Homo sapiens: one gene and its partners. The protein of the gene in region 1 purifies or fractionates together with the protein of each later gene. This does not show direct contact. Each region holds a gene or a part of one and is shown in the gene's direction. Other genes may lie near its edges. The genes, in order: FAM76B, PPIL4, FIZ1, CCNT1, NSRP1, PRP4K and DDX42.

What was found.
Region 2: the proteins of FAM76B (region 1) and PPIL4 purify together in Homo sapiens (affinity purification with mass spectrometry, with the first as the bait; one large-scale study listed by BioGRID). This does not show direct contact.
Region 3: the proteins of FAM76B (region 1) and FIZ1 purify together in Homo sapiens (affinity purification with mass spectrometry, with the first as the bait; one large-scale study listed by BioGRID). This does not show direct contact.
Region 4: the proteins of FAM76B (region 1) and CCNT1 purify together in Homo sapiens (affinity purification with mass spectrometry; one large-scale study listed by BioGRID and IntAct). This does not show direct contact.
Region 5: the proteins of FAM76B (region 1) and NSRP1 purify together in Homo sapiens (affinity purification with mass spectrometry, with the first as the bait; one large-scale study listed by BioGRID). This does not show direct contact.
Region 6: the proteins of FAM76B (region 1) and PRP4K purify together in Homo sapiens (affinity purification with mass spectrometry, with the first as the bait; one large-scale study listed by BioGRID). This does not show direct contact.
Region 7: the proteins of FAM76B (region 1) and DDX42 purify together in Homo sapiens (affinity purification with mass spectrometry, with the first as the bait; one large-scale study listed by BioGRID). This does not show direct contact.

What each region holds. Positions count from the first base shown.
Region 1 is NC_000011.10:95,770,618-95,772,782, reverse strand, and holds part of FAM76B (protein FAM76B), read left to right. Parts: intron 1-1,132; coding exon 1,133-1,222; 3' UTR 1,223-2,165. UniProt on the Homo sapiens protein: Negatively regulates the NF-kappa-B-mediated inflammatory pathway by preventing the translocation of HNRNPA2B1 from the nucleus to the cytoplasm.
Region 2 is NC_000006.12:149,529,044-149,532,543, reverse strand, and holds part of PPIL4 (peptidyl-prolyl cis-trans isomerase-like 4), read left to right. Parts: intron 1-3,500. UniProt on the Homo sapiens protein: PPIases accelerate the folding of proteins. It catalyzes the cis-trans isomerization of proline imidic peptide bonds in oligopeptides.
Region 3 is NC_000019.10:55,593,697-55,596,517, reverse strand, and holds part of FIZ1 (flt3-interacting zinc finger protein 1), read left to right. Parts: exon of another isoform or gene 1-622; coding exon of another isoform or gene 623-898; intron 899-2,821. UniProt on the Homo sapiens protein: May be a transcriptional repressor of NRL function in photoreceptors. Does not repress CRX-mediated transactivation.
Region 4 is NC_000012.12:48,706,708-48,710,207, reverse strand, and holds part of CCNT1 (cyclin-T1), read left to right. Parts: intron 1-3,500. UniProt on the Homo sapiens protein: Regulatory subunit of the cyclin-dependent kinase pair (CDK9/cyclin-T1) complex, also called positive transcription elongation factor B (P-TEFb), which facilitates the transition from abortive to productive elongation by phosphorylating the CTD (C-terminal domain) of the large subunit of RNA polymerase II (RNA Pol II).
Region 5 is NC_000017.11:30,179,316-30,182,815, forward strand, and holds part of NSRP1 (nuclear speckle splicing regulatory protein 1), read left to right. Parts: intron 1-1,592; coding exon 1,593-1,701; intron 1,702-3,500. UniProt on the Homo sapiens protein: RNA-binding protein that mediates pre-mRNA alternative splicing regulation.
Region 6 is NC_000006.12:4,034,800-4,038,299, forward strand, and holds part of PRP4K (serine/threonine-protein kinase PRP4 homolog), read left to right. Parts: intron 1-2,597; coding exon 2,598-2,771; intron 2,772-3,500. UniProt on the Homo sapiens protein: Serine/threonine kinase involved in spliceosomal assembly as well as mitosis and signaling regulation. Connects chromatin mediated regulation of transcription and pre-mRNA splicing.
Region 7 is NC_000017.11:63,812,170-63,815,669, forward strand, and holds part of DDX42 (ATP-dependent RNA helicase DDX42), read left to right. Parts: coding exon 1-39; intron 40-1,058; coding exon 1,059-1,285; intron 1,286-3,393; coding exon 3,394-3,500. UniProt on the Homo sapiens protein: ATP-dependent RNA helicase that binds to partially double-stranded RNAs (dsRNAs) in order to unwind RNA secondary structures. Unwinding is promoted in the presence of single-strand binding proteins.

The sequences.
Region 1 (2,165 bases):
GGTTATTTCATGAAACCACTTTAAGATGGCATACAGAGAAGGCAGAGTGTTATCTGCCCGTAAAAAGCTAAAATTAGAATAAAATATGAAGTACTGAGATTAAAAAAGTCTGTCTATATAATAAAAATTCCTGGAACCTGTGAAGGAAAATGGTGTTGAAACATAAGTCAGAGGATATCTTTTTAAAATGTGTTAATTTTAGGGCAGTGCTCTATTTTCATCACTTTCCCCATTTTGGCTCAAACTACAAAAATGCTTGATCATTAATGTATTTGTATATATAGGGATCCTTACTATCTAAGTTTTCATATTTAAGAGACTGAATAAGGTGACAAAGGCAGTCAAAATGTGAAAATATTCACTGTACTTACACATTCCTCTTCACTAAACTAGTGATGGATGGACATTTAATAATGAAATTCAAGTCAGATGATGAAATGAAATTTTGAATCTTTGTAAAAATTCAAGCTTTCATGAGATAGGAAATGATGATGTGGAACTGCTCAAACCACACTAAAATCAGTGTCAGATGACTGGTAACTAAAGGAACAACAAGATAATGAGTGGTTCTGATGGGTGCTTTAAAAAAAATTGAATATCATTGGGTGCATTTGGCAAAGTAACAAATTCTGAGTTGTTTTTGCAAAAATGACCTCTTATGCTTGTTCTACAAGAGAGTAAACATAGAAAAAAGACCTTATACAGCTTGCCAGGAAATACTCCTCCCAAATCTTGATTCATTCTTTGATTTTATTAATTGTAAATTACAACTTATTTTCATAGTTTTCATGTTTTTAAGATGAAGGGCCAAACACCTTTTCCCTATTAAAATTTGGACCTTCTTTTAAGTGGATTCACTTTGTTTCCTTTTTTGTAACCAATTGTGCATCTTTGGACACAATTATATTAATAATGACATATACAAAGGGGGCTGATGAGCCAATCTAGAATTTTCCTTCTGCATGTTCATCCTTAAAGAGATGAATGTAAAGGTATCAACTCTTTCATTTAATGTTAGTGCTTTAGTGAAACATTTATATAAATGAAAACAGTATTAAATAAGTAGTATTCTTCAGCATGACTTAATAATATTTCAAACATTTTTAATCTTGAATGTTTTTGTCTCCCACAGGCCAAAAACAGAGAACTACTCAAACAGGTCGCAGCATTATCAAAGGGTAAAAAATTTGACAAAAGTGGAAGCATACTAACATCTCCTTGAGAAAGTCATTTGTTTAGCATTTCTTCTTACAATGTAAATTTGGGGAAAAAAAATTCTGTGAAGCCCTTAAATTCTGTGTAGTAGAAAAATATTTTTGCACACCAAATGAATTGGTGTGTTTCCTGTTCACTTTTGTAATTGATATACAGCATTTTTTAAGTTGTAAAACATTCAAATAAAACTTCAACTGGTTTGAAGTAACTTTTTAATTATTTGATATCCAGGAACTTTTTTGCCAGCAATAGTATTAAACAGTTGTAAAGGAGTGCATGAGTAGTGCTCTTTATGAAACGCAACATGCAATAATAGAGTAGGTATGGTTTCAGAAGTCAGAGCAGCAGGGTTTTTTTGTTTTGTTTTTGTTTTACACTATGCTAATTTCAGACAAACAGTTTTCAATTTAGAAATACAAAAACTTTTAAACTCGAAAAATGGCGAACACTGGTTTTTTGGGAATTGTGTTTTTACTTTGCATCAAGATGAATTTAGGAGAAAATCACGGTGCTTTTATTAAATGAACTTCAGATATATGTAAATTTGTTTTTTAAAGTTACATCATTAACATTAGTAACCTAGCATTTTCATTATTGGTATAGGAATTAATGTTTATTGTACAGTATCTAAGGTAAAATGTGTTTCTGTTTTGTAAAAACTACTGTAGATTTTTACTTACAAGTGCCTTTTTGCCACCTAATGTTTTTATTTATAGGAATGCTGATCTTTTGTACATACATTTTGTTTTAAAATCATGTTTAATAAATGTTTGTATATAAATGCATATGTACAGAAGCCTATTTCAAAAGGAAATCAAAGTTGCTAGTAAAATGTTTGAGATTACATTTAGAACTAACTGATAATGCATATAGATTGTAGAAAATTTTGTGATTTGTTTCTGTGTGATAAGGGAAGCTGTTGGTCTTTGAATTCATTTAATTATGTCAAA
Region 2 (3,500 bases), on another chromosome or scaffold:
AAATTAAAAAAATTAATTGAAAATACACATTTTAATGAGCACACTGTGTATCTCAGAGTATTGACTCTGAACACCCAACACCAAGACAAATTCTAAGAGAATTACTACACTTGAAAGATATGTTGAACAATTGGGCAGAAAGAATAAGTTACTTATAAGGGAATGAATTTAGATTGTTATCAGACTTTTCCACAGCAACACTTTGGAAGTTTATGCCAGAAGAAAATAGATTAACATACTTTTTAAAACTTTTTGTTTTCAGATAATTTCAAATTTATGGGAAAAAGTACATAGAACTTCTATATACCTTTTACCCACATTCACCAATTTTTAACATTTTGCTACATCTGTTTTATGATTCTCTCTTTTTCTCTCTCTCTGATTATACAAGCACATAAACACACATTTTTTTTCTCGACTATTTGACAGTAAGTTGCCTGTTATTTCCCTTTACCTCTTAATCAGTGTGTATTTCCTAAGAGCAGCAGTATTCAATGTGTATAACAATATGTACGTATTCACAGTGTAGTTACCAAAATCAGAAAATTTAGAAGTGACAGAAATTACAGTTTATAGGGCCGGGCACAGTGGCTCACGCCTGTAATCCCAGCACTTTGGGAGGCCGAGGCGGGTGGATCACGAGGTCAGGAGTTCGAGACCAGCCTGGCCAACATGGTGAAACTCCGTCTCTACTAAAAATACAAAAATTAGCTGGGTATAGAGGCATGCGGCTGTAATCCTAGATACTCAGGAGGCTGAGGCAGGAGAATCGCTTGAACCCAGCAGGCGAAAGTTGCTGTGAGCCGAGATCGCGCCATTGCACTCCGGCCTGGGCAACAGGGCGAGACTCCGTCTCAAAAAAAAGAAAAAAGAAATTACAGTTTATATTCCAATTTTGCCAGTTGTTCTAATAATATCTTTTATAATTGTTTCCTCCTCCAGACTAGAATCCAGCTCGTGACTTATCATCTGTTGCATTTATTTTGTAGAATATTTTCCTTTTTTTTTTTTTGAGACGGAGTTTCTGTTGCCCAGGTTGAAGTGCAATGGCATGATCTCGGCTCACTGCAACCTCCACCTCCCAGGTTCAAGCGATTCAGCTGCCTCAGCTTCCCAAATAGCTGGGATTATAGGTGCCTGCCACCCACGCCTGGCTAATTTTTTTTTTTTTTTTTTTTTTGAGACAGAATCTCGCTCTGTTATCAGGCTGGAGTGCAATGGCACGATCTTGGCTCACTGCAACCTCTGCCTCCCGGGTTCAAGCGATTCTTCTGCCTCAGGCTCCCGAGTAGCTGGGATTACAGGCGCCTGCCACCACATCCAGCTAATTTTTTGTAATTGTAGTAGAGACAGGGTTTCACTGTGTTGCCCAGGCTGGTCTCCAACTCCCGACCTCAGGCGATCCTCCTGCCTTGGCCTCCCAAAGTGCTGGGATTACAGGCATGAGCCACCGTGCCCGGCCAATAGAATATTTTTCAATTTAGGTTTATCTACTCTTTCCTCATGATTAGATTCAGGTTATGCACCCACAGCCGAAATAGTACGTGAGTGATGTTGTGTCCTCAGAGGTCACATCTGGAGGTGTACGATATTCATTGGAAGATGAGTAATTTTGGTCACTTGGTCATGGTAGTCCACTGCCTGGTGTCTCCAATAGACAATCTGTGGCTAGACACTTGGAGATCTTTCAAATGTCTTGTTCCTTGTCAAATTTCCCCCATAAATTTCTCAGCCATTCATGATTCCTGACTGCACCAGTTTTGACTCTGCTAAGTGCAAAGTGGTAATTATGCAAAGTGGTAATTTCCCACCCCCACCACTTTTTCCACAATTACCAACCTGCATTCTACTGTAAGGAAGAGCCCTCCCTTCTTTTTTTTTTTCCGAGATGGAGTCTCGCTCTGTCACCCAGGCTGGAGAGCAATGGCGCAATCTTGGCTCACTGCAACCTCTGCCTCCCAGGTTTAAGCGATTCTCCTGCCTCAGCCTCCTGGGTAGCAGGGATTATAGGTGCCCGCCACCACGCCCAGCTAATTTTTGTATTTTTAGTAGAGACAGGGTTTCACCATGTTGGTCAGGCTTGTCTCAAACTCCTGACCTGGTGATCTGCCTGCCTCGGCCTCCCAAAGTGCTGGGATTACAGGTGTGAGCCACTGTGCCCGCCTGAGCCCTCCCTTCTTAACTGCTTATCTATCCGTTCATTATCCGTGTCTCATGGATTCTTTTTTTGGCTTTGTTTTTAATAGACAATTTGTAGAGCAATTTTAGAATTACAGAAAAACTGAACATAAAGTACAGAGAGTTTCTAAGTACTCCCTCCCTCTTTCCCCCAGTCTTGCATTATTGTGACACATTTGTTAACAATTGATGAGCCAATATTGATACATTATTAATTAAAATCCATGATTTACGTTAGAATTCAAGCTTTGTGTTGTACATTCGGTGGAACTGACAAATGTACGATAGCATATATCTACCCTTACAGGATCATTCAAGGTAGTTTCACTGTCTAAAAAATCCCCTGGGCTCCACCTGTTCATCCCCACCCCCAACACCCACTTCTTGGCAACTACTGATGTTTTTACTGTCTATATAGTTTTGGCATTTTCAAAATGTCATATAGTTGGAATTATAGCGTATGTAGCCTTTTCAGACTGTCTTCTTTCACTTAGCAATATACATTTAAGGTTCCACTGTGCCTTTTTTCTTTCTTCCCTTTCCCTTTCTCCTTTCCCTTTTTCTTTTTCTTTCTTTTCTTTCCCTCCTTTTTTTTTTTTTTTTGAGACGGAGTCTCGCTCTTGTCGTCAGGCTAGAGTACAGTGGCATTATCTCGGCTCACTGCAACCTCTGCCTCCCAGGTTCAAGAGATTCTCCTGCCTCAGCCTCCTGAGTAGCTGGGACTACAGGCACGTGCCACCGCGCCCGGCTAATTATTTTGTATTTTTAGTAGAGACGAGGTTTCACCGTGTTAGCCAGGATGGTCTTGATCTCTTGACCTCGTGATCTGCGCGCCTCAGCCTCCCAAAGTGCTGGGATTACAGCATGAGTCACCCTGCCCGGCCCTTTTTTTAATTTTTTTTAATTTTTTTTTATTTGAGACAGGTTCTCGCTCTGTTGCATGGACAGTGGCACAATAATGGCTCACTGCACCCCGACCTCCAGGGCTCAAGTAATCCTCCTACCTCAGCCTCACAAGTAGCTGGGACCACAGGCGTGTGCCACCATGCCCGGCTAATTTTATTTTTTGTAGAGACAGAGTCTCACTATGTTGCCCGGCCTGGGATTTCATTTCTTTCTTTTTTTTGTTTTTTTTTTTTAGAGAAAGTCTCACTCTTTCACTCAGGCTGGAGTGCAGTGGTGCTGTCATAGCTCACTATAACCTTGAACTGAGGTTGAGCAGTCTTCCTGCCTCAGCCTCTTGAGTAGCTGGGACTATAGGCACACGCCACCACACCTTGGTAATTTTTAAATTTTTTTGTAGAGATGGAGTCTTACCCATG
Region 3 (2,821 bases), on another chromosome or scaffold:
AAGGCCCTGAGGAAGGAAGGAGTGTGCTGTGTTCCAGGAAGCGATGGGAGACTGTGGGGTTGGGGTGGAAGGAGGTAAGGTGAAAGATGGGACGGGCTAGGTCACACTCTGTCTATGTGCCAGACACTTGCACAACCAGGGTGAAGAAAACCAGGCATCTACCGATGGTCTTTCACACTTGGCTGTCCTCTCTGTCCCCATGCATCTGCCTTGGTTCAGGACTTCACATCCTGAATGTTGGCCCCGGCTTTCTCAGTGGTCTCCCTCCTTCCTGTCTCTCTCCCTCACATCCAGTCTCTGCATCTATCACAGAGTGACCAGGTGACCCCTGCTTAAATCCCTTGATCCTTAGGATGAAAGGGGAGCTCCTTAGCTTGATGCAACAATTGACAGTCCCCTGAGGGGCCTCACCCCCACCCACCAGTAGGTTGTGATTCAACTGAACCATTTCAGGAGCACCTACTGTATTTAGATACAGTGCTAGGCTCTCTGGGGGAAAAAAAATAGCTAAGGGAACAAAACAGATACAGTCCACCCTTTGTATGGCCTCGAGTCAAATGTGGGAGATGTGAACTGAACAACTAGGTTAATCAATGTTAGGCTGCAGCCGAGACATCTGAGGATGGAGGATAACCATATTCTGAGGCTAATGCAAGAGAGAGCTGAAGCAGTCTGGATCGGGGATGGGGTCAGGGATGGTTTTCCCGAGAAAAAGGTGAGGAATGATCTGCCTCTGGGGTCCGAGGCTTTCCGGATCCAGGGAACAAAATGTGTACTTTCAAGGAAGCAAAGCAGGCTTTGGAGGAACTGGAGGAAGGCCAATGTGACTGGAGCATGGAGAAGCAGAAAGTGTGGCTCAGGAGAAGTCTGGAGAGTGCCGGACCCTGGAAATACAGCTGTGAGCAAAACCAATGTGGTCACTATTTTTATCGTCCTTAGCTGGTGGGGAGACAGACAACACTCAAGTTATATGTAGACACTAAGTGTGCTATGAGCCATAGGCTTTAAAGAAGGAGGGTGGAAGAGGATCACTGATGAGCCAGGGGGCCAGATTCCGGGAAGGGTTTCCAAGGAGCTGACAGATAAATAGACCTACGGGCATTCCAGGCAGTGAGAACAGCATGTACAAGGGCCCTGGGACCAGCATAATCTTGTTGTGTTAAAAGAGTAGAGAGAGAATAAATTTAGTGACAAAGAGGATAGAGATCCCTACACCCACACTGTACAGCAGGTGCATCGAGTCTGGAGCCAGAAAGGCAAATGAACATCACTCCCTGTTCCTTCTTCAGATCTGTGCCCCTGGCAGACATTACTAATCAAGCACTGCACTCTTTCTCATCCAGCCTCACCCTTCTCCTCACAGGCCTCCAGGAAGACATTACCATACTCACAAATCTCTCTCTGTTATTCCAAAATCTTAAATCAACAAGGACAAATATCAATACAAAAAACCTCTCTAAGGCACGGTTTTACACAGTCTACAAGCCTGGCAATGCCTCAGAAAAAAATACAGATTCCTGGACTCCCTCCTGGGAGATTCGATTCCCTAGACTTGGAAGTGATTCCCTGGATCTGTATGTGTGAAAAGCGTTCAGTGGGAGAAACTCTGAGCAGTAGCCGGATTCGGTTCAAAATCACTTCTCTGCCCTAACACACCTAAGGCCTGTATTCAGCTCATGATAACTGGCTCGGGATAGCAGGGCTTGACAAGGGAGAAGACACACCCTGCTAGGGCTGGCTGCTGTGTCACTTTAGAGCTGCACTGTCCAGTATAGCCATTAGCCACCGATAGTGATTTCTTTTTTTTTTTTTTTTTTTTTTGAGACAGAGTCTCGCTCTGTCGCCCAGACTGGAGTGCAGTGGCGCGATCTCGGCTCACTGCAAGCTCCGCCTCCCGGGTTCATGCCATTCTCCCGCCTCAGCCTCCTGAGTAGCTGGGACTACAGGCGCCCGCCACCACGCCCGGCTAATTTTTTGAATTTTTAGTAGAGACGGGGTTTCACCGTGTTAGCCAGGATGGTCTCGATCTCCTGACCTCATGATCCGCCCGCCTCGGCCTCCCAAAGTGCTAGGATTACAGGCGTGAGCCACCGCACCCGGGCTTTTTTTTTTTTTTTTTGAGACAGAGTCTCGCTCTGTCACCCAGGCTAGAGTGCAGTGGCACGTCTTTGGCTCACTGCATCCTCCACCTCCCGGGTTCAAGTGATTCTTCTACCTCAGCCTCCTGAGTGGCTGGGACTACAGGTCCCTGGGACTACCCGCCACCAGGCCCGGGTAATTTTTGTATTTTTAGTAAAGGCAGGGTTTCACCATGTTGATCAGGTTGGTCTCGAACTCTTGACCTCAAATGATCCACCCACTTCAGCCTCCCAAAGTGCTGGGATTACACACGTGAGCCACCGCACCCAGTCGTGTTTTTTTGTTTTTTTTGAGACACAGTCTCACCCTGTCATGCAGGCTGTAATGTGGTGGCATGGTCACGGCTTACTGCAGCCTCAAACTTCTTGGCTCAGCCTCCCAGGTAGCTGGGACCACAGGAGTGTGCCGTGTCCAGCTAGTTTTTAAAATTATTTGTAGAGACAAGGTTTCCCTGTGTTGCCTGGGCTGGTCTCAAACACCTAGGCTTATGCAATCCCAGAGTGCTGGGATTACAGGCGTGAGCCACCATGGCCAGCCAGGACATGGCCTTTTTAAGGACCGAAAGAATCTACCGTGACCCCAAACAGAGAGTGATAGGACGAGCGTTTCCCTAGATCATGGCCCTGTAGGTGTGACAGAGAGCTTGTGCCACAACCCTCTGGGAGTCCAGGAATCCGTTGTC
Region 4 (3,500 bases), on another chromosome or scaffold:
TTACAAAGGTATTAGAGGCTGGGCGTGTTGACTCAGGCCTGTAATCCTAGCACTTTGGGAGGCCGAGTTGGGTGGATCATTTGAGGTCAGGAGTTCGAAAACATCCTGGCCAACATGGTGAAACCCCGTCTCTATTAAAAACACAAAAATCAGCCGGGCATGGTGGCGTGCACCTGTAGTCCCAGCTACTCACTTGGGAGGCTGAGGCAGAATTGCTTGAACCCGGGAGGTGGAGGTTGCAGTGAGCTGAGATCGTGCCGTTGCACTCCAGCTTGGGTGACAGAGTGAGACTCCATCTCAAAAAAAAAAAAATGAAGAAACCCAAAGATATTATAATAAATTCCCATGGTAAAAATTAAGACAGTACAGAAATGTATGTGGAAAGTGAAAACTACTCTGTAATCCCACCCAGAGATAACCATTGATAAATGTTTGGTTTATAGTGACCCAGACATTTTTCTGTGCACATAAACTAGCATTGAGGTATTTTTATTTAAAAAATCATATCTTGCTATGCTACTGTTGCACAGCTTGCCTTTATCATGTAACAGTATGTATTGGACATCTTTCCATACTTCCCTTTATTATTTTTTGGATTTCTTATTATTTTAATTTGCCACATGGTATTTGTGTAGTTACTGTAGTTTATTTAACCAGCTTTTTATTGATAGCTATTTGGGTTGTTGTTCTAGTTTATTATATTGTACATTATGTTTCATGGGATAGTCTTGTACATATATAGTGCACTTATATAAGCATTTTAATACAAGTTCCTATAGGTGGAATTGCTGTGCCCAGAGTATACAATGTATAAAAATTTTTGTAGTGTCAGTTTGCCCTACTGAAAGATTATACATTGTTTCCAGCACTGTAGGTGAGGGTCCTTTTCTTTCCACCCTAACAAACAACAAATATTAATTACCTCAAGAAACATTTATCTAGTTCTTTGTTTTTGAAACGGAGTCCCCTCTGTTGCCCAGGAGTGCAGTGGTGCCATAATTTAGTTTAGTTTTATTTTGGTTTTATTAGTTTATGCCATACTTTTAGTTTCTAATAGGCTTAAAACCTTAGTCTTTGACTTGTCCTTTTCCCCTTTGTTCAGTTAGTTATAGTCCCCCCCAACCCCAAGATAGGTTTTTACTCTGTCACCTAGGCTAGGCTGGAGTGCAGTGGTACAATCATAGCTCACTGCAGCCTCCATGTCCTGGGCTCAAGTGATCCTTCCACCTTACCAAGACTACAGTGCCACCACGCCCAGTGAATTTTCCTTTTGATTTTTTGTAGAGATGAGGTCTTGCTATGTTGCTCAGGCTTGAGCTCAAGGGATCCTCCTGCCTTGGCCTCCCAAAGTGCTAGGATTATAGGCAAGAGTCTGCACCCAGCCTATAAAGTCTTGCTAATTTTATAATGTTACCATTTTTTCCCTCTCCTTATAAATATGTACTTTTTAAATTATCAAAAAATTGGAAGAGGACGGACAGGAAATAAAGAGATAATCCTGTTAACATTTTAGAGTATATCCCATTAGAATTTTTTCTTTGTATGCAAGTACATGTACATATATTTAGTGCAGCCCTATTAGTTTTACAAAGTGATGCCTGTGTTTCTTTTTTCCTTTATTTCTACTGCTAGTGTCTAAACTTTTTTTTTTTTCTTTTTTTGAGACAGAGTCTCGCTCTGTGGCCCAGGTTGGAGTGCAATGGCGTGATCTTGGCTCACTGCAACCCCCACCTCCTGGGTTCAAGCGATTCTCCTGCCTCAGCCTCCCAAGTAGCTGGGACCAAAGGCGTGTGCCACCACTCCTGGCTAATTTTTGTATTTTTAGTAGATATGGAGTTTTACCACGTTGTCCAGGCTGTTCTTGAACTCCTGACCTCAGGTGATCTGCCTGCCTTGGCCTCCCAAAGTGCTGGGATTACAGGCGTGAGCCACCACGCCCGGCCTACTCTAAACTTTTTAAAATTCTTTTTTCTATATTTTAAAATAATTTTTAAAAAACAGAGACAGGGTCTCATTGTGTTACGCAGGCTGATCTTGAACTTTGGGCTCAAGTGATTCTCCTGCTTTGGCCTCCCAAAGTGCTCTAAACTTTATGTCCTAATGCCTAAATTATTATTTAAGTTAACTTTTATTTTATTTTTTGAGACAGTATGGCTCTGTTGCCCAGGCTGGAGTACAGTGGCATGATCTTGGCTCACTTCAACCCCTGCCTTCTGGGTTCAGGCAATTCTCCCGAGTAGGTGGGACTACCCTACTACAAGACTCCTGAGTGGTGGTGTGTGCCACCACGCCCGGCTAATTTTTGTGTTTTTAGTAGAGACGGGGTTTCACCATGTTGGCCGGGCTGGTCTTGAATTCCTGACTTCAAGTGATCCGCTACCTCGGCCTCCCAAAGTGCTGGGATTACAGGCGTGAGCCACAACACCCAGCCTGAATTAACTTTTAATGTATCCCATCCTTTTCTCCTAGTTTTACCTACCATCAGATTACTCCTTCTAAATATTACTTTGTTTTAAAAATTTATTTTTATTAATTATCATGGGTACATAATAGTTATATACATTTATCATAAACATTTCTTAAACGATATTTTTCAAAATCTTTAGTGTCACTCTTGTTAAGAATCTTGGCTGGGTGAGGTGACTCACACCTGTAATCCTAGGACTTTGGGAGGCAGAGACAGAATTACTTGAGCCCAGGAGTTTGAGCAGCCTGGACAATGTAGGGAGACCCCATCTCTATTAAAAATAAAAATAAATTAACTGGGTGTGGTGGCGTGTGCCTGTGATCCCAGCTACTTCGAAGGCTGAGATGGGAATATCTCCTGAGCCCAGGAGGTTGAGTGGAACTGTGATTTTGACGCCACTGCACTGCAGCTGGGTGACAGAGTGAGATGCTGTCTCAAAAAAAAAAAAAAAAGAAAGAAAAAAAATCTAGTGTTCCACATCCGATTATCTAATGTATTTAACTACTCAGTTTAGTATTGAAAATGTGCTTTACGCCTAGATCACCATACCTTTGTTCATATCCATTTTTCTCTGATCCTGTTTTGTTTATCCTAAAGTCTGAGGAATATATATGTAGTATGCTTCATATTCATCTGAAACAAATGTGAAGGAAAAGAATCACTGTGTTTACTTAAAACAGTTTTTTCCGTATGTGTATGGAGATGGAGTCTCTCTCACTATGTTGCCCAGGCTGGTCTCGGACTCCTGGGCTCAAGTGATCCCCCGCCTCTGCTTCCCAAAGTGCTGAGATTATAGGCTTGAACCACTGTGTCTGGCCTAAAAAAATTTTGTTTTAAATTATTTTTGTCTCCTATGGTCTTGTCTGAAATCAATACTATGAGTTGAATTTGTGGAGAAAAACTTACTCTAGAAAAGTATAGCATAGGTGACATCAGGGTTACAAATAAGTATTAGAATATCAGTTCTAGTCAGTAAAATGAAATATATATTTAAATTCTGTAAAATTATTTATGTATTTCTTTGACTCCTGGT
Region 5 (3,500 bases), on another chromosome or scaffold:
AAAGGCACAAGGAAACAGTAGCAGAATCTCTCCCCTGTGGTTAGCTGTTTGCTCTGTCACTGAACTTTAGGGTTATGAGTTTGTGATCATAATTTATATATAGGAATTCAAGACACAAGGAATATGGTATTATATAGCAGTATAAAACAGAAAGGAAAGTTTAACTAAAAACACAGTTGAACTCTTCAGTAACTATTATTTCTACTAGACTTTTCTCTTAGTTCTCATTTTGTGGCTTTTGCCTTAGAACATGATCTGAAATGTAAAAACATTTATTACAAAGTATAACGCCATGGCATTTGTCAGAAACAATATAAATATAATTTTAAACCCTAGTTACATTTTTTTGGGATGAGAAAATAATAGAGTAACACCACTCAAGGAGGATCAATGAGGCAATTAGAAAAAGAATAACATTAATTGAAGAAAGAATAAAAATTGGATGAATTAAGAATATCTTAATGCTTTACCTTAGTGCTTTCTACTCATGATTATTTCTCAAGATCTAAGTAGAATATGTATTTATAAAATACTTTTTTTTTTGAGACTGGGTCTCTGTCACCCAGGCTGGAGTGCAGTGGCTCAACCATGGCTCACTGCAGCCCTGACCTCCCAGGCTCCAGTGATCCTCCCACCTCAGCCTCTTGAGTAGCTGGGACTACGGGAACATACCACCACGTCTGGTTACTTTTTGTATTTTTTGTAGAGACGGGGTCTCACTATGTTGCCGGGGCTGGTCTCGAACTCCTGGGCTCAAGCAATCTTCCTGCCTCAGCCTCCCAAAGTGTTGGCATTACAGGTGTGAGCCACCATGACCAGCCCTGTAAATACTTTAATTGACAAATGCTCATCAGCTTTTTGGACAGAGTCTCGCTGTGTCGCCCAGGCTGGAGTGCAGTCGTATGATCTTGGCTCACTGCAACCTCTGCCTCCCAAGTTCAAGTGATTCTTATGCCTCAGGCTCCCAAGTAGCTGGGATTACAGGCATGCACCACCACACCTGGATAATTTTTATATTTTTATAGAGACGGAGTTTTACCATGTTGGCCAGGTTGGTCTCGAACTCCTGAGCTCAGGTGATCCACCCACCTCAGCCTCCCAAAGTTGTAGGATTACAGGCGTGAGCCACTGCGCCCATCCTCTTCAGCTTTTAAGTAGAAGAAAACCAAGTCTATAACATTCTGTCTAAGCATGTACTATGTGTTTAGAGTGCCAGTCGGCAAACTTTCTGTAAAGGACCAGATAGTATTTTAGTATTCATATTTTAAGACTTTAAATTTATAAATTCATATTTTGAATGCCAGATCATATTCATACTTTAGGGCTTTTTGTGTATATGATCTCTGTCGCAGTTACTGAGCTCTGCCTTTGTAGTACAAAAGCAGTTGTGGACAATACATAAATGAACAGGGCTTTGTTTCAATAAAAATTTATTTATGAAAACAGGCAACAGGCCAGATTTGGCCTGCAGTTTGCCAACTCCTGATCCAGCGAGTAGTTTACACACTGTATGTTATATACTGTATGTCTGTAAAATGAAACTGCACTGTGCCTTATTGAATATATTCTAATTTTTGCTTTCCCTCTGTTAGCATGTTTGGATGTAACCAAGCAGAAAGATCTCAGTGGATTTTATAGGCACCTATTAAATCAAGCAGTTGGTGAAGAGGAAGTACCTAAATGCAGCTTTCGTGAAGCCAGGTGAGGAGACGTGTATGAAATATTTTGAAGAAAAATACTGTTAATAATCTGTGGTTGTGGGGTCATTTTAACCCTCTGAAAGATGGAAGATTACAACATTGCATATTGTGTTGTCAGCCAGCCTTACCTAACTGAATGAATGGCTAGAAATTTGCAGTTTCTTGATTTTAAAACCTACAGATTTAGTTTAAGATCATTTTTATTCTGCATTTCACAGAAATTGTTACATTAAAACAGTGATTGAGTTTAATATTATTGTAAAACCAAAGACAGACTTTTAATGTATAAAGTTTCTGAATTTTTAAGTGATTTATGGGTCTTAACAAGGGAGAGCAAAATCTTCAAGGGAAAGCAAAATCAAATTGTAGTTTTTTCTTTTTTCTTTTTTTTTTTTTTTTTTGAGGCAGAGTCTCACTCTGTCGCCTAGGGTGGATGGAGTACAGTGGTTCAATCATAGCTCACTGCAGCCTTTGCCTCATGGGCTCAAATGATCCTCCCAAGTAGCTGGGACTACAGGTGCAAGCCATCATGCCCAGCGAATTTTCTTTTTGTGTTTTTTGTTGTTGTTGTTGTGTGTGTGGTTTTTTTTTTTTGTTTTTTTTTTTTTTAGATGGAATGGAGTCTTGCTCTGTCACCCAGGCTGGAGTGCAATGGCGCGATCTCTGCTTACTGCAACCTCTGCCTCTCAAGTTCAAGGGATTCTCGTGCCTCAGCTTCCTGAGTAGCTGGGACTATAGGTGCATGCACTACGCCCGGCTAATCTTTGTATTTTTAGTAGAGATGGAGTTTCACCATGTTGGCCAGACTAGTCTCGAATTCCTGACCTCAGGTGATCCACCCGCCTCGGCCTCCCAAAGTACTGGGATTATATGCATGAGCCACCACGCCCAGCCTCTTTTTGTATTTTTGTTGTGGAGATGGGGCTTTATGTTGCCCAGGCTGGTCTTGAACTCCTGGGTTTGAGGGATCCCCCCTCTATCTCAGCCTCCCAAAGTGCTGGGATTACAGGTATGAGCCACTGCACCTGGCTGCTTTTTTTTTTTTTTTTTTTTTTTTAAATAAGAATGTGGGTATTCCTCATGATCCTTAAAATGATTGGTGCCTGGTACCTTAAAATGATTTTGCTGTCAGAATTAAGGAGAAAGTTGGAAAGAATTAGGTGTCTACAATATAAGTCTTATATACATGTTCAGATAGTGTATAAAAAGGAAAGTGGTTTGTTTTCATAAATAGAACCCAGCCTTCCTAAAATGTAAGACTTACATATCGGGGCTAGAACTGCACTGTTAGTATGTAGGCACTAGTCACGTGTAGCTACTTAAATTAATTTAAAGTAAATAAAGTAGGTTGGGCGCAGTGACTCACGCCTGTTATCCCAGCACTTTGGGAGGCTGAGGCAGGTGGATCATGAGATCAGGAGATGGAGACCATCCTGGCCAACATGGTGAAACCCTGTCTCTACTAAAAATACAAAAATTAGCTCGGCATTGTGGCACATGCCTGTAATCCCACCTCCTGGGGAGGTTGAGGCAGGAGAATTGCTTAAACTCGGGAGGCGGAGATTGCAGTGAGCTGAGATAGCGCCACTGCACTCCAACCTGGCGACAGAGCCAGACTCCATCTCAAAAAATAAAATGGCTGGGCACGGTGGCTCATGCCTATAATCCCAGCACTTTGGGAGGCCAAGGCGGGCGGATTGCGAGGTCAGGAGATTGAGACCATCCTGGCCAGCACGGTGAAATCCCGTCTCTACTAAAAATACAAAAAATTAGCCAGGCGTGGTGGCGGGCGCCTGTTGT
Region 6 (3,500 bases), on another chromosome or scaffold:
CCTCCTGGGTTCAAGCGATTCTCCTGCCTCAGCCTCCCAAGTAGCTGGGATTACAGACACGCACCACCATGCCCAGCTAATTTTTGTATTTTTAGTAGAGACAGGGTTTCACCATGTTGGCCAGGCTGGTCTTGAACTTCTGACCTCGTGATCCGCCCACCTCGGCCTCCCAAAGTGTTGGGATTACAGGCCTGAGCCACTGTTTATTTTCATTGCATTTTAGCAGACAACACTCTGTTCTTTTTATACTAGTTTACTTTATCCCATCCATTTATATATACATATATATACACATATATGTGTGTTGTTTTTGTTTTGTTTTGTTTTGTTTTTTTGAGATGGAGTCTCGCTCTGTCGCCCAGGCTGGAGTGCAGTGGTGTGATCTTGGCTCACTGCAACCTCTGCCTCCTGGGTTCAAGCAATTCTCCTGCCTCAGCTTCCCCGAGTAGCTGGGACTACAGGTGTGCGCCACCACGCCCGGCTAATTTTTTTTTTTTTTTTTTTTTTTTTTTTTTTTTGATATTTTTAGCAGAGATGAGGTTTCCCCACGTTGGCCAGGCTGGTCTCGAACTCTTGACCTCAGGTTATCTGCCTGCCTTGGCCTCCCAAAGTGTTGGGATTACAGGCGTGAGCCACCGCACCCAGCCCATTTATATTTTTTAACTGGTCTTTTGAGGCTGTGCGTGTATGTGAGCAGATTAAATAAAAGAGTTTCCTCAGATGGCCCTATCAAGAAGTAAGCACTACCAAGAAGTAAGCACTACAGATCTGAATCAAAGTCTACCTTGCTCATTTTGGCTGGATCAGAGAAGGATTCTTGGGTTCTGTATACCGTGCTGAAACATGCAAGGCAGGTTGTGTTTTTAGGTTTTTATTAAATGAGGAAGGCAAGTTGCAGTGGCTCACGCCTGTGTTCCAGCACTTTGGGGAGGCTGAGACGGGTGGATCACCTGAGGTCAGGAGTTCGAGACTAGCTTGACCGACATGGAGAAATCCTGTCTCTACTAAAAATATAAAATTAGCTGGACGTGGTTGCTCATGCCTGTAATCCCAGCTACTCAAGGCTGAGGCGGGAGAATCTCTTGAAGCCGGGAGACAGAGGTTGCAGTGAGCCGAGGTCACACCATTGCACTACAGCCTGTGCAACAAGAGCAAAACTCCATCTCAAAAAATAATAATAATAATAAATGAGGAAAATACTGTAATATTATTTGATTATGGAGACAAACCTATTTACAATCTGACTGTTCAGATTGAATAGTTGTGACCAAACCTGGAATAACATTAAGAAATGTTCAAAACCTGTTTTAAAAAATTAAGCTGTAGAAAGGCCTGTTGTAATACAAATATCACATTAAACAAGAGTAAAACTCACTGAAAGGTACTTGTGTGATAAGTGTTGAAAAGTTGGGTTTTTGTGGGGTTTTTCTGGGGAGACTGGAGGCAGGGTCACACTCTGTCACCCAGGCTGGAGTGCAGTGGCATGATCTCTGCTCACTGCAACCTCTGCCTCCCAGGCTTACACAATCCTCCCACTTGAGCCTCCCTATTAGTTGGGACTATAGGCACATGCCACCACACTTGGCTAATTTTGATATTTTTTGTAGAGATAGGGTTTCGCCATGTTACCCAGGCTGGTCTCAAACTCATGAGCTTAAGTGATCCATCTGCCTCAGCTTCCCACAGTGCTGGGATTACAAGTGTGAGCCACCACACCTAGCTATTGTTTTTGTTTTTTTGAGACAAGTTCTCACTCTGTCACTTGGGCTGCAGTGGCACAAACACAGCCACTGCAGCCTCAACCTCATGGGCTCAGGCGGTCCTCCCTCAGCCTCTGAAAGTGCTGGGATTGCAAGTGTAAACCATTGTGCCTGGCCTATTATACTTGACATTAAAAAGAAGATTTTTGCCCGGGCATGGTGGGTCACACCTGTAACCTCAGCACTTTTGGAGGCCAAGGGAGAACCACTTGAGGCCAGGAGTTCGAGACCAGCCTGGGCAACATAGTGAGACCCCCATCACTACAAAACAAAATATTAGTCAGGTGTGGTGGCATGCCCTTATGGTTCCAGCTGCTCAGGGGGGCTGAAGTGGAAGGATTGCCTCAGCCTGGGAGGTCAAGGCTGCAGTGACCCGTGTTTGCGCCACTGCACTCCAGCCTGGGTGACAGAGTTAGACCCTGTCTCAAAAAAAAAAAAAAAAAAAAAAGATCCTTAATTGGAGAAATGTCAGGATGTAGAAAGAAAAAGTCGTCAATGAAAATGGAATATTTGAGTAAATGGAGTATTATACTCACTTGGGGAGGTTTTATTTGAGTTGGTTTATTTGAAATTAGAATCAGTGACTTTACCGGTATGAATAACCTTTAGTAATTTTTCAAACTGTGGGACCAGAGGAAATAAGACCTTTCATTGTTTGCCTGCAATAACACCAAAATATCACTGTAGTCACCTGAGTAAGTTTTGTTACAAAACACATTAATCAAAGTTCACTTTCTTTAGGCTAATGTGCCTTTTCTTACAGATGTTCTTTGCATATAGAAAAAAATCATTTACTTTGATTTATATTTCTTTTAACTTGCATTTGATCCCCTTAAGAACACGACCTCGAGATGATATCCTCAGTAGACGTGAAAGATCAAAAGATGCCAGCCCCATCAATAGATGGTCTCCAACCCGAAGAAGAAGTAGATCTCCCATTAGAAGGAGGTCTCGTTCCCCACTCAGACGTAGCAGGTCTCCAAGAAGAAGAAGCAGATCTCCTCGGAGAAGGTAAAGACATTTCATCCTTGTGATTCATTAAACTCTGAATGTTTTTGAACCACCAGTGAGCTCACTTGGTAGGTTTTCTTTTAGACCAGTTTTCTCTGAAAAATCGTAGTTGTGTTCCCATAGTTTCCTTTTACCAGCAATCTCTACACATGGGTTTTCTTTTATATCGTTTCCTTTGAATTTTAAACAAATCATTGCTCATTTAGGATGCAATAAAATTAGTCTTTTAAAAATAGGACTTTTTTCTCTCTTTTATCAATCAATACTAAATGAGCCAGACTTAGGGATTTTTTTTTTTTTTTAACCAGCAAGGTAGATCATGTAGTAGTAAATATATAGCCCAGTTTCTTACATTTTATATTAATTTTGCATATTGATAGTTACTGTAGACTTAGGCAAAGGCCTATTTAATTTGCCATAGAAACCATTTTATCTGAAGCATATGTAGTCAGTAATAGGTTAAAAAGGTGGTTTATAAAGCAGGGAATCATTTTTTAAAATTCATACATACATGAAATATTTTAATATAAAACATAAATGGGTATTTGTTTGCCAATCTTTTAACATTTTTAATTGAAGTAATAAATGAATATAATTTTTAAGAAACAAAGGCTTATATTATAGCCATCTTTACATATCTCTCAGAATTTTTGTATGCTGTATTCCTAGAAATGGAAATGCATGGTCTGAGTGCACTCTGGTCAATGAGGGGTTTTATTTTATTTTATT
Region 7 (3,500 bases), on another chromosome or scaffold:
AAAAGGACATCCCAGTCCTGGTGGCCACAGATGTTGCAGGTAGAGTATGAATTTTTCAACAACATTAAGTTCCTAGGCTATAAGGGTACTCTGTCTTACTACATAAGACCTATAATATCTGAGCAGGCTGATGGAAAGACTGTTGGCCTGGCTGGCCATCCCCTCCCAAACCCCCAAGGAAGCAGCAGTTCAGCACAGGGATCACAGTCTGGAGCTCTAGATACCACTTTTCACTTAGTATTTCTCTCTAATCAAAGAATCCCTGCAGCTAGAAGTCACTCTGGGAAAAAAGGCAGTGAATGCCCTTATTGTATGTCTGAATATAGTAGATACCTTACCCTTACATTGATCTACTATACACAGCTTAGTTGGGCAACTTAACTCAGGATGAGAACAGTTTTTGGAATATAATTTCTGGATTTGTTCTGTCAAGTTTTAATAACTACCCTTAAACACTGATATTTTTTCCTAGAAAGGAGAGAACTTCTCAGCTTCATGACACATTTTAAATATATATTCCCAGTGCAAGAGAAGAGGGCATGGCAGATTACTGATGCAAAAGATAAAAGTCCCAGTCGGGCACGGTGGCTCACACCTGTAATCCCAGCATTTTGGGAGGTGGAGGCGGGCGGATCACCTGAGGTCAGGAGATCGAGACCATCCTGGCCAACATAGTGAAACCCCGTCTCTACTAAAAATACAAAAATTAGCTGGGTGTGGTGGCGCGTGCCTATAATCCCAGCTACTTGGAAAGCTGAGGCAGGAGAATTGCTTGAACCAGGGAGTCGGAGGTTGCAGTGAGCCGAGATCATGGCACTGCACTCCCGTCTGGCAACAGAGCAAGACTCCGTCTCTAAAAAATAAAAGTCCCTTACACTAGAAGGCCTAACATCATAGAATCTGTGGTGGTGACTTAACATGCCTGTATCTCAGCTCACCAAACCCATGCGCTTTGCCTAGATAAAGGAAATGTGGCTTATTAGCACTAGCATTTCTGGTTACTTTGATCTTCTGACTACAGATGAAGAATAAAAGAATTTGGTTGCTTTTTATTTCAGCCCGTGGTCTGGACATTCCTTCAATTAAGACTGTCATTAACTATGATGTGGCACGAGACATTGATACCCACACGCATAGGATTGGCCGCACAGGAAGAGCGGGTGAGAAAGGTGTGGCCTATACCCTACTCACTCCCAAGGACAGCAATTTTGCTGGTGACCTGGTCCGGAACTTGGAAGGAGCCAATCAACACGTTTCTAAGGAACTCCTAGATCTGGCAATGCAGGTGAGGGGCTGGGCACACTTTCAATTGCTCCTGGTTATAAGACCAAGACATTTTAGCAGTCCTGGAACAGATAACATAAAAACTTGACAAGAAAGTTGGGTGGCTAGGAGGATGTGGGGCTTATGAGGTACAGATAGGAATTGTGAGATACTAAAATTCATCTAGTCTTATCTGGTCTTCTTCTTTCAACAGCATCTGTTTTGAAAAGCTATTCCTTTGTGCTAAAATCTGTCGCTGTAATTTCTACCCCATAGCACACTTAGGAGTAAATTTAATCTCAAAGATGGTTACTATTCTCCTTACTGCTCTTCCCCCACAAAATTTTTCTTCTGGGAGGCTAAAAATGTGTGATGCCTTTAAAACAATATGTGTATAGTATAGTGCCCCCCCACCTTTTTTTTTTGAGACAGAATCTCACTCTATCGCCCAGGCTGCAGTGCAATGGCACGATCTCGGCTCACTGCAACCTCTGCCTCCTGGGTTCAAGCAATTCTCCTGCCTTAGCCTCCCAAGCAGTTGTGATTACAGGCGCCCACCACCACGCCTGGCCAATTTTTGTAATTTTAGTAGAGATGGGGTTTTGCCATGTTGGTCGGGCTGGTCTCGAACTCCTGACCTCAGGTGATCCGCCCGCCTCGGCCTCAACCTCCCAAAGTGCTAGGATTACAGGCGTGAGCCACCGTGCCCAGCCTGTATGGTGCCTCTTAACTGTTCCTTGCAGAGATCTCAGACCTCTGACCACACTGATTGCCCTCTTCCAGGTGTGCTCCAATCTAAAGCTAAGTGAGGCATTCTAACAAATCAAACCTGGAGTCATCTGAATCCATGCTGTCCCCAAATTACAAATGGGTTCGGAACACTTTCTGAGAGCAGAAACTGTTAAGAGTTTGTCAAATGCCTAGGCCAGCTCACACAACTGGTACAACCCAGCTGCAATGTGGCAGTGCCCAAGTTTCTGGTCCTAGGAGTAAAGGACCTGCACTGCAGGAGAGAAGAGAATAATGTTTCCTCCCCTGCTCCTGAGCACAGAGAGCTAGTCCTAAATAAACTTTTAAAACAGGACACATTTTGACTTTGGCATTTTCTTCCATTTCTTTTTGTACCTCAGGCTTTCTGTGCTCAGGACTTTGTCCAAGCCTGCTGCCCTACCTCTCAAGCACTTTATTTTGCTGGTAATATGTGATTGTCAGATAAAACTTTAACCTTCCCAGAGACATTTGCTTTTTTTTTTTTTTTTTTTTTTTCTTTTTTCTGAGATGGAGTCACACTCTATCACCCAGGCTGGAGTGCAGTGGCGCAGTCTCAGCTCACTGCAACCTCTGCGTCTCCGGTTCAAACAGTTCTCCTGCCTCAGCCTCCCAAGCAGCTGGGATTAGAGGCATGTGCCACCATGCCTGGCTAATTTTTGTATTTTTAGTAGGGACGGGGTTTCACCATGTTGGTCAGGCTGGTCTTGACTCCTGGCCTCAAGTGATCCGCCCACCTCGGCCTCCAGAGTGCTGGGATTCATAGGCGTGAGCCACCGCCCTGCATTCTTAAGAGAATGTGAGTAAATATGTTGAGTGGCAATGGTCAAGTTCAATGAAAACTTTTACGCTCTGCGGGTAAATAAAATTTTCAGTTGTGTGGCTACCATCCTTTCTGGGAGTCTGTCCCTATAGTCAGTTCTGATAAGCCTCACTTCACATAGCATTTTTCCTTTGCTTCTGAACATACCAGTTGTTTAAGTTCCAAATGTTTACGTCCAATAATACATGGTTTGAGAAATAAAATATAAGCTCATTTTCCTCAAGGAAGTTAGAAGTAGCCAAAGTTACTCCTCTGGGTTTGAAGCTTACCTGAACAACTTCCCTTCCAGGAGAGCCTTGAGGGAGGGAGCACTGTAGGAAGCCTTAGATAAGGATCTCAGCCACTTTTCAAATTTGGTGGATTATGCTACCAAAGAGAAACCAATCTGTGGTTCCTGTGAAAATTCCTCCCTTAGCGTAGTGCTGGCTGAAAATTAAGCAAAAGTTCCCCCTTCCCACTTAATTTCCTCTTTGTCCTCGTTCTCTTCTTCTGTTCTTTTCTCCCTCCCTTGACTTAACCTTGAATTTTGTTCAATGCAGAATGCCTGGTTTCGGAAATCTCGATTCAAAGGAGGGAAAGGAAAAAAGCTGAACATTGGTGGAGGAGGCCTAGGCTACAGGGAGCGGCCTGGCCTGGGCTCTGAGAA